Regions from separate parts of the Homo sapiens genome. Here region 1 is linked to region 2. Evidence: fine-mapped expression QTL. A gene starts in region 2. The other region holds a variant in brackets. All regions are shown on one strand. Distances are between the middles of the regions.

Region 1 (5,369 bases), 44 kb after region 2:
CCTAGAATGATTATCAACTTAAGTTTTGATGAAAATCAGTTATTCCAAAGCTCCAGGTTTCCTGAACGTTTGCAATCTGCTGTTGCTTCTACCCTCCACTGAGCTAGCTTCTACTCATTCTTAGGTCTAGGCTGACATGTTGCCTCCTTCAGGAAGCCTCCCATGACTACCCAGCCTGCACCAGGCATTCCTCTGGGCTCTCACAGTCCCTTGGGATTCCCTCCTCATTCTTTCTGGTGACAAACTGGTCTTCCCATTGGGCTGGGAGGACAGGCACTAGGGATGTCTCAGTCACAGCTATATCTACAGCATCTCCCTGCATAATTGCTGAGATTAAAGGTTAGGGGAACTATCTGTTGAGGAAATGAATTCATGAGTTATTGTCCTGTCTTATCTTCACCTCATTGCCCAAGCTGTTTCCTGTTCCATCTTGCGCTAATTCCTCCCTATCCTTCAGGGATCAGATTAGTTATACCTCCTTTGGGAAACCCTCCAATGCCCCAGGTTGGGGTCTCTGAGCTTCCACAGCCCTCTGTTCCCTCCATCCTGGCCCTGACCCTCTGCCTGTGTCTCCCCAACCCCGGCCCTGACCCCTCTGGGCTGTCACTGTCAGGTGACAGGCCAGTCTGCATTGGGCTGGGAGTTCCATGAGGTCCATCTGTTACCACCATGTTCCCAACATTACCCAGGATAGGGCTGGACTTAGAGCAGGCACACAGAGATGTACAATGAAGATCAAATGGGTGCGCAGGTTCTTGAATGCCATGTAGAGGGGCTGGTAGCTGCAATTGGGGATCAGAGGGAGCCCCAGGCTTCCAGGAGCAGGGGGAGGGCAGTAGAGGGCTCCATTTAGGGATTCTTTGTTTTGTAACAGGGTCTCACTCTGTCACTCAGGCTGGAGTGCAGTGGCATGAATACAACCCACTGTAGCCTCAAACTCCTGGGCTCAAGTGATCCTCCCACCTCAGTCTCCCAAGGAGCTGGGACCAGAGGTGTGTGCCACCACACCGGGCTTATTTTTTTTTTTTTGGTAGAGATGGGGTCTCACTATGTTGCCCAGGCTGGTCTCCAACTCCTGGGCTCAAGCAATCCTCCCACCTTGGCCTCCCAAAGTGTTGAGATTATAGGTGTGAGCCACCGTGCATGGCTTGGATTAGGGAGGCCTGGTAGGAGGCAAGAAGGAAGCCATTACAGAGAATGGGTGGAGAGGACTCTGGATTGAGTGAGGGATGCAGTCGGAGGCTGGGTGCCCTGTGGGGCAGGGAGTGGCCTGGAAGGAAGGTAGACAGGGTGCAGACAGACCTGGGTCAGTGAACGCCAGTCCATGTTGGCACTGCCCAGGTAGAAGTGGGTCTGGTCCACCACCCAGAACTTGGTATGCAGGACGCCATGGGTCAGCTTCTGCATGTCCACCATGCGGACCTGGGCACCTGTGACCAGCAGGGGCAGAGATCAGGGGCCAGGCTGGGTACCCCCAGGCCCAGACCAGCCCCAGTTGGGCCCCAGCTCACCGCTCTGCAGCAGAGCCTGCAGGTCCGCCTGTGGCTGGGGCCCGCTGGGCTTGCTCACAGCGATGCGGACGTTCACGCCCTTTGGTGCCAGGGTCTGCAGCTGCCGGAGGACCTCCTCACCCTGCGGGGAGGGGAGAGCTTCTGAGGGGCTGGACCAGCCAGCTCTCCAACCCCACAAGGTAATGCCCGGTGGAGTTATTTTGAGACATGATTAGGAGTAAACAGACTTTACATTAGCCTGCATAGATTAAAGACTTTACAGATTAAAATATTAAAAGACTTCCTTATCTGTTTTAAACATCTTTATCTGCTTTAATAATTAGTTGCCCTGTGATCCCCCTCCAAGTCCTCCTGACCCCTCCTGCCCCTCCAGGGACTTTCTCAAAATTCAGCATCAAGGCAGGGCCTCCAGGCATCTCCCAGTATGGTGGGGGCGAGGCTCAGGCAGGGGGTCCTGGAAGGTATCGGGTGAGGCACGATGATGCCAACAACAGCAACAGTCAAGGATGCCCTGGAACCTACTGTGTGCCAGGCCCTGTTCTAGGCCTCTTCTCAGCGAACTCACTGAATTCTCACAACCCAGTGAGGCTGGTTTAATTATAATCCCCACAGAGAACTCAGTAGTGGAGTGGGATTTTGTTTTTGTTTTTTTGTTTGTTTGTTTGTTGAGACAGGGACTTGCTATGTTGCCCAGGCTGATCTTCAATCCCTGGGCTCAAGCATTCCGCCTGCCTCAGTCTCCCAAGTAGCTAGTACCTCAGGAGTGCACCACCACATCCAGCTATGGAGCAGGATTTGAACCCAGACCATCTGCCTCCTACATCTGTGTTTTAAACCACTTTAGAGGGAGCCAGCAGGGAGTGGGAGCTCATACGGTTTTTTAACATAAAAAAATTTTTTTTTAGAGACAGGGTTTCACTATGTTGCCCAGGCTAGAGTGCAGTGGCATGATCACAGCTCACTGCAGCCTCCAATTCCTAGGCTCAAGTCATTCTCCTGCTTCAGCCTCCCAAGTAGCTGGGACCACAGGTGTGTACCACTATGCCTGGCTTTGGTTTTTAACTTTTGTAATTATTATTATTACTTTTTCTTTTTCTTTTTTTTGAGACAGGGTCTTGCTATGTTGCCTGGGCTGGAGTGTAGTGGCATGATCACGGCTCGCTGCAGCCTCCAACTCCTGGGCTCAAGCCATCCTCCTCCTTCCATCTCCTGAGTATCTGAGACTGCAGGCATGCACCACAACACCCTCCTAATTTTTTTTTATTTTTAGTAGAGATGGTTGAGGGGAGGTGGGGGG[C/T]GGGTCTCACTATGTTGCTCAGGCTAGTCTCGAACTCTTGGGCTCCAGTGATCCTCCTGTCTAGGCCTCCCAAAGTGCTGGGATTACAGGTGTGAATCACCACACTTGGCCATAATTATTTTTTTCAGGCAGTTCTTAAGGAGCCTTGTAATTTTAGTTAAGTTTTAAGACAACTTCTCACAAAAAGAGCCAGTAGGGAGAAGAAAACAGAAGGAACAAATTCATGGTTTTTCAATGGAAGAGGTTATCCATGTAGGCTGTTCCTTTTCAAATTGTGAAGCTTTTATGTTCTTTAAGTTTGTCTGCAGACCATACCAGGATATATAGTAACAGCAGACTCACAAAGGCTGACTCTGTGCCAGGCACTGTGCTAAAATTTGCATGGATTAGTCCATTTCATCCTCACAAGAGCCCTAAGAAGCAGGTGCTATAAATTGGCCCCATTTTACAGATAAAGAAACTGAAGCTGGAGAGAAGAGGTGGCCTGCCTGGGGTCACACAGCTGGGAGGTGGCCCCTGTCTTGAGGCTGGGCTGTTAATTACTCCACTCTTCCCTTTCTTTGTGTGACTGGGTCAGGACAGCTTGTGGGTGAGTGACATCTGCCAGCCTAATAATCCCTTGTAACCAAACCCGCACCCTGACATTCAGAGGCCTACAGATGACCGTGACAAACGCCCCCAGTCCAGAGAGCCACGTGACGACAGCTGCTTGCAAACACCTGTGTCCAATCTGCTGTGTGAGACACACCCCTCTGTCTCCTGGGCTGCAGGAGAAACCCCTTCATTCCCCACAGCCCCCGCTGCCTCCCACCCCCTGCCCCTGCTGCCGGCCAGGGCCAAGGTTGCAGGTACCTGCTGGGCAGAGGGCTCCTGCGTGTGGGTGTCATTGTTGGTGAGGGTCCAGTAGAAGGAGGCGATGTCCAGGCTGCTGTGCGCACCGGCGAGCAGGCCCAGCCAGGCCTGGCTGGTGGAAGGGTTCCCCGTGGAGGCATTGGGGAAGTCCAGGCCCTCAGGAATGCTTTCCACCAGCACTGCTCTGGGGGGTGGGGGATGCTATCAGCCATACGGTGCCGGAGAGCAAGGGCTGGGAGGTGAGTGCTCAGCTGTCCGTCCATGGGTGTGTTGGATAGACTGTATTTTTTTTTTTTTAGAGACAGAGTCTTGCCCTGTCCCCCAGGCTGGAAGCGCAGTGGCGCCATCTCAGCTCACTGCAGCCTCGAACCCCTGGGCTCAAGCGATCCTCCCGCCTCAACCTCTTGAGTAGCTGGGACTACAGGTGTGCACCAGTATGCCTGGTTACTTTTTTTACTTTTAGTAGAGATGGAGCCGCACTACATTGCCCAGGCTGGTCTGGAACTCCTGGGCTCAAGCAATCCTCCCGCCTCAGCCCCGCAAAGTGTTGCAATTACAGGCGTGAGCCACCAAGCCCAGCTAAACTGTATTTGAGTTTTTCTTTTCTTTTAAAAAAAATTTTTTAAAACTGTGTGTATTTGAATGCGTGCCTGGACTCATGATCCTCTGCGTGTCTGTCTAGAGGTGTGGAAGGAAGGTCGTGTATTGAGATGTGTGTGTGGGTCCACAGATGTGGGTGGAAGATGCTGTGTCTGTTCACAGGCCTGACAGAAGATGACGCTGTGGCTGCCATAGAAACTATGTGTGTGGAGGAGGAGGGGGCGGGCGAGCACTTGGGAGCCTGCAACCTCCTCACTTGTCGCAAGCGCTGGGTAGGGCTGAGTGCAGGCCCTGTTTAGTGTGTGCTTAAGTGTACCTGGTCTGGCAGGCCCCTCCCCCACCAACTGCAGCACCCCCCACTTACTCGCAAGGGTCATAGCAGGGGGCTGGGCGCTGGTTGGGCCCAAAGAGATGCAAGTCGCCGTATTCCCATAGAAACAGCTGAGTCATCAGGGCTCCGAAGCCCACAACCGCCAGAATGAGGACCAGCAGGACCCAGCGGGCTTTCTGTGGGGAGGAGGAGGTGGTCAGCCAGCCCGAGGGGGGCAGCCCAGCCTGTCTCTGAGACAGAGCGAGGGTGGCGGAGGGCTCCTACCTTTTCCGCAGCCTTCCACGCCTCAATCTCATTCATGGGCAGCTCATTGGCGGGCTCCTCTGCAGGCACCTTCAGCTGGGGATGGGGACAACAACGGGGGTGACAGGTGGCTCTTGGGAACCCCCACCCCCACTGTACCCAGTTCCACCCTGCTGAGCCCCCCAATCCACCTACCTCCTGGTACATCAGTTTAGGCTTCATCTTCCCTCAAGGCTGGGGGATACGCAGAGCCCAGGTGAGAAGGTGGGTGTGTCAGGGTCTCCAAACTGGCAGAACAAAAGTGGGCACTGTGTGGGGTGTTCTACGCTTTCCAGGGACAGACATCACAGAAGAGTGATTAGTCTTGGGGCTATTCATAATCATGGGGGCCACTGGCACACTGCCCACCACCCCAAAAAGAGGAAGCTGGTCACTGGTCAGCAGGATTTCGAAATCCCTCAAAATCCAACGCTCTGCTGCCTGCTCTTCACTCTGCAGTGCCCACCCTGCCCCCATCAGCACCCACGCAGCTCCC
Region 2 (5,369 bases):
TGCTCACTGAATGTTTGCTGATGGTGAATGAAGACCCGCTCCATTTCTCACCTCTGGTCCTTTGCCCACATTTGTCCCTCTGCCTGGAACCCCCTTCCCTCCTTTTTTCCTTAGCTCCCTCCTCCTCAATCTTCCATTTTGACTTCCTTTTATTATTTATTATTATTTTCTTTTTGAGACAGAGTCTCGCTCTGTCACCCAGGCTGGAGTGCAATGGCGCAATCTTGCCTCACTGTAACCTCTGCCTCCTGGGTTTAAGCAATTCTCCTGCTCAGCCTCCCGAGTAGCTGGGATCACAGGTGCCCGCCACCACGCCTGGCTAATTCAGTTTGACTGCCGATATCACCTCCTGCAGGATCCTTTCCTGAGTTTGCCGCCTCCTCCCTGGGGTGGAGTTAGATCTGTTGATGTCCCCTGTGCCCAGCAAAAGACCTACCACTAAACAGGGCTTGTGAGTGTTTGTTGAATGAATATAGGAACAAAAGAATGTTTGCGTGAATCAATGAAGGAGAGAGACTGCAATGAAGTGAGGGTCTCCTCAGGCCCATCGGGAGCCCCGACCATACCATCCCTTCTACCCCTCCTGGGAGGAGGGCTCTGGCTGGCTTCTGGCCACACCCCAATGCTTGGTTGCTGCCAGGCCTGGAAGGCATTTCCCAGAGCTCAGCACATTCCTGCCTTCCCCGGTGGCTGAGAGTGGGCAGGGGGCATTTCAGAGAGAAGGGAGGGAGGCCCCCAGCATTCCGGGATCCTGCCATCCTGGCCTGGTCCCCCACGCCCTCTGAAGTAGGCCCCAACCCTCTGGTGTGAGATGGGGGACAGGTCTGCAGAGGGGCCACCCAGGCTGGTGTGAGGGGCGAGGGTGCCGACAGAGGCCAGGGCTTGGTGTCTGTGCCTGGCTGGACAATGGGGCAGAAGCTGCTGACATGCGCTTTGGGGGTAATCCCCCAGCCTCAGCCCAGCCCAGGCCTGGGGCCTGGGTTCAGAGAGCGACGAGCTTCCGAGGCAGCAGCCGGGTGGGTTCAAGTGGCATGTGGGGGTACCTGTGCTCCCTGTGCCGCCCCCCGGGGTCTGGTGAGTCAGGGCAGGCTGGGGGCTGGACCAGGGTCCAGGGGTTGGGGGTGAGGCCTGGTAGCTTTGGCTTGGGAGTCGGGCAGGTCTGGGTTCAACTCTGGACCCCTGCCAATGACCTGCTATGGTGATATTGGGAGAGTCACTTACCTTCTCTGAGCCTTCTGGTCTGCAAAGTGGAAGGGGCAGAAGAGTGTAGCAGGGTTTTTGTGGTCCAGGAGAACAGGGGTTGGACCTCAGCTTCACCACCTCCTGGCCACATAGCTATAAATTGGGCATAGCTGGACGCGGTGGCTCACGCCTGTAATCCCAGAACTTTGGGAGGCCGAAGTGGGAAGATCGCTTGAGCCCAGGAGTTCGAGACCAGCCTGGGCAACATGGTGAAACTTTGCCATTACAAAAAATACAAAAATTAGCTGGGCATGATGATGCATACCTGTGGTCCCAGCTATTTGAGGGGGCTCAGTCGGGAGGATTGCTTGAGCCCAGGAGGTGGAGGCTGCAGTGAGCCATGATCACACCACTGCACTCCAGCCTGGGCAACAGAGTGAGACCTTGTCTCAAAAAAAAGGGTGGGGAGCATAAGGAGCCCATTTTACACCCTTGATTCAAAAGCAGGGCTTCAGCACTGAGCATGGTACTTAGTATGTGATAGGTGTCCCCCTAAACAGTAACTCCATTAGACAGAGAACTGGGGGTCCCCTGTGCCCAGCCTTACTGAAAAGGGGCCAAAACCCCCCAGCAAGATGAGCCAGCCACCTAATTTGTGTGAAAAATAATACCAAATACTTATTAGTAACCCTCATTATGTGCCCGGCATTGTCTTACATTTTCAGTCTCTTTTAACTCGTTTAATCTTCACCACAGCCCCATAAGGTGGGTACTCTTACTATCCGCAAAGAGAAGCTGTGACTGGCAGCAGGTCACCCAGCGAGGAAGTGGTCGCGCTGCGATTTGAACCCAAGTTGACAGGGAGAGGGAGTGAAAGGAGTTTACAGTAGAGGCAGTTGGCCAGGCCCGGGTCCTGGAGCCAGGAAACAGTGGGGCTGGGGTGGGGTCCTGATTCTCCAAGTCGAGGAAGCCAACGTGCAAATCCTTGAAGCTGAGCTCATGGCAGAGATCTCGGCCCAGGCAAGAGAGAGGCGGCTGGTGGCTGTCCCGTGGCCCCCACCCCTTGGGGATAGATGTAGCTGGAGGAGGGGGATGTTTGTTTCTCCACCACCCACCCTCTGGTGACGTCACACCCCCGCAGCCAATGGCTGGGGTCTCTCTCTCCTCCCCCCTCCCCATTCCTTTTCCCCCCCAGCCTAGGGCTAGGGCTGACAGACGGGACCAGGAGCTCTCGAGGTGTCTGGAGGCTCAGCGGTAAGAGATCAGCCGGCCGGTCCCTTCCCTGGCCAGGCTGAGACACTGTGGGAATGAGGTTCAGGGTCCCGGGAGGTGCTGGGAGGGGGCCTGGGGGCTCAGGAAGCCGTGTGGTGTAGGTGTTAAAGGTATAGACTTTGGAGCTGGTGGTTCAAATCCCCTTTCCTCTCCTTTCTGGCTGTGCAGCCTTGGGCAAGATACTTCATCCTTTGTGCCTCTGTTTCCCCATCTCTAAAATGGGCTGATGTCTGGAGGCCACCTCACAGGGCTGGTGCCGAGTAAATGAGTTGCTGCTTTTAAAGAGCTAGGGCAGCCAGGCATGGTGGCTCATGCCTATAATCCCAGCACTTTGGGAGGCTGAGGCGGCAGGACTGCTTAAGCCCAGGAGTTCGAGACCAGCCTGGGCCACATAGAGAGGCCCCCATCTCTACAAAACAAAAAAAAATTTTTTTTAATTAGCTGGGCATGGTGGTGCATGCCTGTGGTTCCAGCTACTCTGGAGGCTGAGATGGGAGATTGGGTTGGGCCCAGGAGGTTGGGGCTGCAGTGAGCCGTGATCACACCTCTGCACTCCAGTCTCAGTGACAGAGGGAGACCCTGTCTCCAAAAAACAAACTAACAAACACCAGAGCTGGGGCAGGAGGCCTGGGGTGGGTCCCTGGAGTAGGGTGCTAGGGAGGCAGCATGGATCCTGTTGGGAGGCTGGTGCCTGAGCTGGGTTTTGTCTCTCAGCCAAAGCTCCCCTTTGGTAGCAGAGAAAGTGGGGGCCACTGAGGAGCAAAGGTTGGATGTGCAACACTGTGAGAAGCACAGCTCCCTCCCTCCATACTCTCCCTGTTGCTGTCAGAGACGAGTTTATATTAATCAAGCATTTACTATACAGGAGGGATATTCTAAGCACCTGCTGTTCTCTCACAAATCTTCAAAGCCTTTCTTATTGGCTCCATTTTACAGATGGAGAAACTGAGGCCCCAGAGATGAAGGATCTTGCCCAAGTCCTCACACCTGGGAAGTGCTGGAGCAGGGACTAACCGAGGCAGCCAGAGGCCACTGCCTTAACTCCCCCTGACCCCCTAGGTGGCCTCAGATAATGTTTAGAGGTCTGGATGAGTCAGCCCAACCCCTGACCCCCATTGCTATGAGAGATCACGCTGGTGGCGGGGGAAAGCTGAGGCTCTGAGCAGGCAGGGTTCCCAAGTGAAGTTGGTGGCAGTCACCAGGGAAAGAGGGCCAGAAGGGCAATGCCCTCAGCCGATCCCTCAGCAGCCTCCGAATGACAACCCCTCGCTCCCAGCTGCTCTGAAGGGCATAAGTCGCATCTGAAATGGATATCTCAGTTGTACCCACTCCAGGGAGATGTTACAAAGATTTAAGGAGCCAAGACAGGAAGGATCTTAGCACACAGTAGGTGCTCAAGAAATGGGGACCCTGGGGATTCTGAAAGTTCTGGCATATGCCAGGGTCATGCCACAGTAACTACCCAAGAAATAGGCTGCTGGCATCTGGAGTGTCTGCCTGGTCCCAGTGGATCTGCCTCTAACACAAGGCAGGGACCCTCCCCAGGAGCCTCCCCACCCCTCTTTCCCCTGCCTAGTGGGATAGGCAGAGCTGGGAACACAGAGTCCTCTCTGTGGGTTTCCTTCCGAAGCTGCCCCCACCTTACCCCAGGGGCTGGGTACGTGGCTCAGGAAGAGCACAGTTGGGCTAAATATAACCTGGGCTGGGTGCCTGTCCAGGCAGGGACGAAGAAGGAGGGCACTCTCTCTTGTCCCTGCCCCGCCTGAACTTCCTGTGCCAGGCTCCGGGCATGACCCTCACAGCCACGGGCCTGGGACAGAGAGCTGATGACCCAGGAGACCCCCTCTACTACCACCTACAAGGTTCAGGCTTCTCGTGTCCCCAGCTCAGGACTCTGTGCTGTGTATCAGTCCTGGGTAAGGGAACTGAGTTCGCTTTCACACCTGGGCTCAAGTCTCGACTCTGTCACTGTGATCACCGGTCTCTTAACTCTCATTGACTCATCAGTTAAATGGGGTCCCACAAGGTCAAGTATGTAAAGCGCCTGCCCGGTCCAGGCCCGGCACCTGGCCTGGGTGTGTTTCTAGCACCGTTGGCCCCCTCCTGCCCAACCCAGCTCCTGCCCCAGTGCGCAGAGCCACCAATGCAAATTAAGGTGAAGCAGGGGTGAAGGGCAGGCACGGGTCCTAGCTCTGCCCCTTTCTGGCTGGGTGACCCCTCTGTGAGCCTCAGTTTCCACCCCATAACAGCCACAACATCTAGGGTGATTTTGAGGCCTGTGGGTGCTAGCACAGGGCCCAATTCAGAGGAAATGCCCCAGACATGGCAGACAAGGTCTTAGTGCAGGGACCAGCTAATATTAATACTAACCACTCAATACCCATCAGTTGTTATTATGATTGTCCAGCTAAAGCGCTGGAGCTTTTTTTATTTTTATTTTTATTTTTTTGAGATGGAGTCTCGCTCTATCGCACAGGCTGGAGTGCAGTGGTGCATTCTCAGCTCACCACAACCTCCGCTTCCCAGGCTGAAGCGATTCTCCTGCCTCAGCCTCCCGAGTAGCTGGGATTACAGGCGCGCGCTGCCACGCCTGGCTAATTTTAGTATTTTTAGTAGAAACGGGGTTTCACCATATTGGCCAGACTGGTCTCGAACCCCTGACCTCGTGATCCACCCACCTCGGCCTCCTAAAGTGTTGGGATTACAGGCCTAAGCCACGCGCCCAGCCCGTGCTGGAGTTTTTAGACAAGTTCAAGTCCTGGCACAGCCTGGAAGGTGTAGGGGGCTCACAGGGGATCCCAGGGAAGGCCACAGAGACCAGGACCCCCTAGGAGATGCAGAGAGAAGCCCTCTTACACTGTGGGGGGCGTGGGTGCTGTGGGAGTGTTAAGGGGTCCCCATGTCCTCTCTCCTGG

Which allele goes with the higher level. Alleles are on the strand shown, and positions count from the first base shown. SD is a standard deviation of normalised expression in the study named.
With allele T in place of C in region 1, the expression in NK cells of the gene that starts at base 2,396 in region 2 is higher (large effect, 1.5 SD a copy in Schmiedel 2018).

Evidence for each region. PIP is the estimated chance that this variant, and not a neighbour inherited with it, causes the effect. A credible set is the group of variants that fine-mapping cannot tell apart.
Region 1: its variant is the best candidate, but not a certain one, in a credible set for the expression of PRX in NK cells (Schmiedel 2018, PIP 0.57).

The regions. Positions count from the first base shown.
Region 1 is chr19:40,366,171-40,371,539 of GRCh38, reverse strand. It overlaps PLD3 (phospholipase D family member 3), which reads right to left. Exons shown (of 13, transcript NM_012268.4): 3 at 5,030-5,121; 4 at 4,856-4,930; 5 at 4,625-4,767; 6 at 3,661-3,844; 7 at 1,512-1,632; 8 at 1,303-1,430. The coding sequence starts at 5,056. MIR6796 (microRNA 6796) reads right to left here and starts at 1,694; the gene lies at 1,633-1,694. RefSeq lists a silencer at 3,429-3,594. The variant C/T (reference allele first, on the strand shown) is at 2,809.
Region 2 is chr19:40,410,405-40,415,773 of GRCh38, reverse strand. It overlaps PRX (periaxin), which reads left to right and starts at 2,396. Exons shown (of 7, transcript NM_181882.3): 1 at 2,396-2,436. RefSeq lists enhancers at 938-1,586, 5,103-5,369.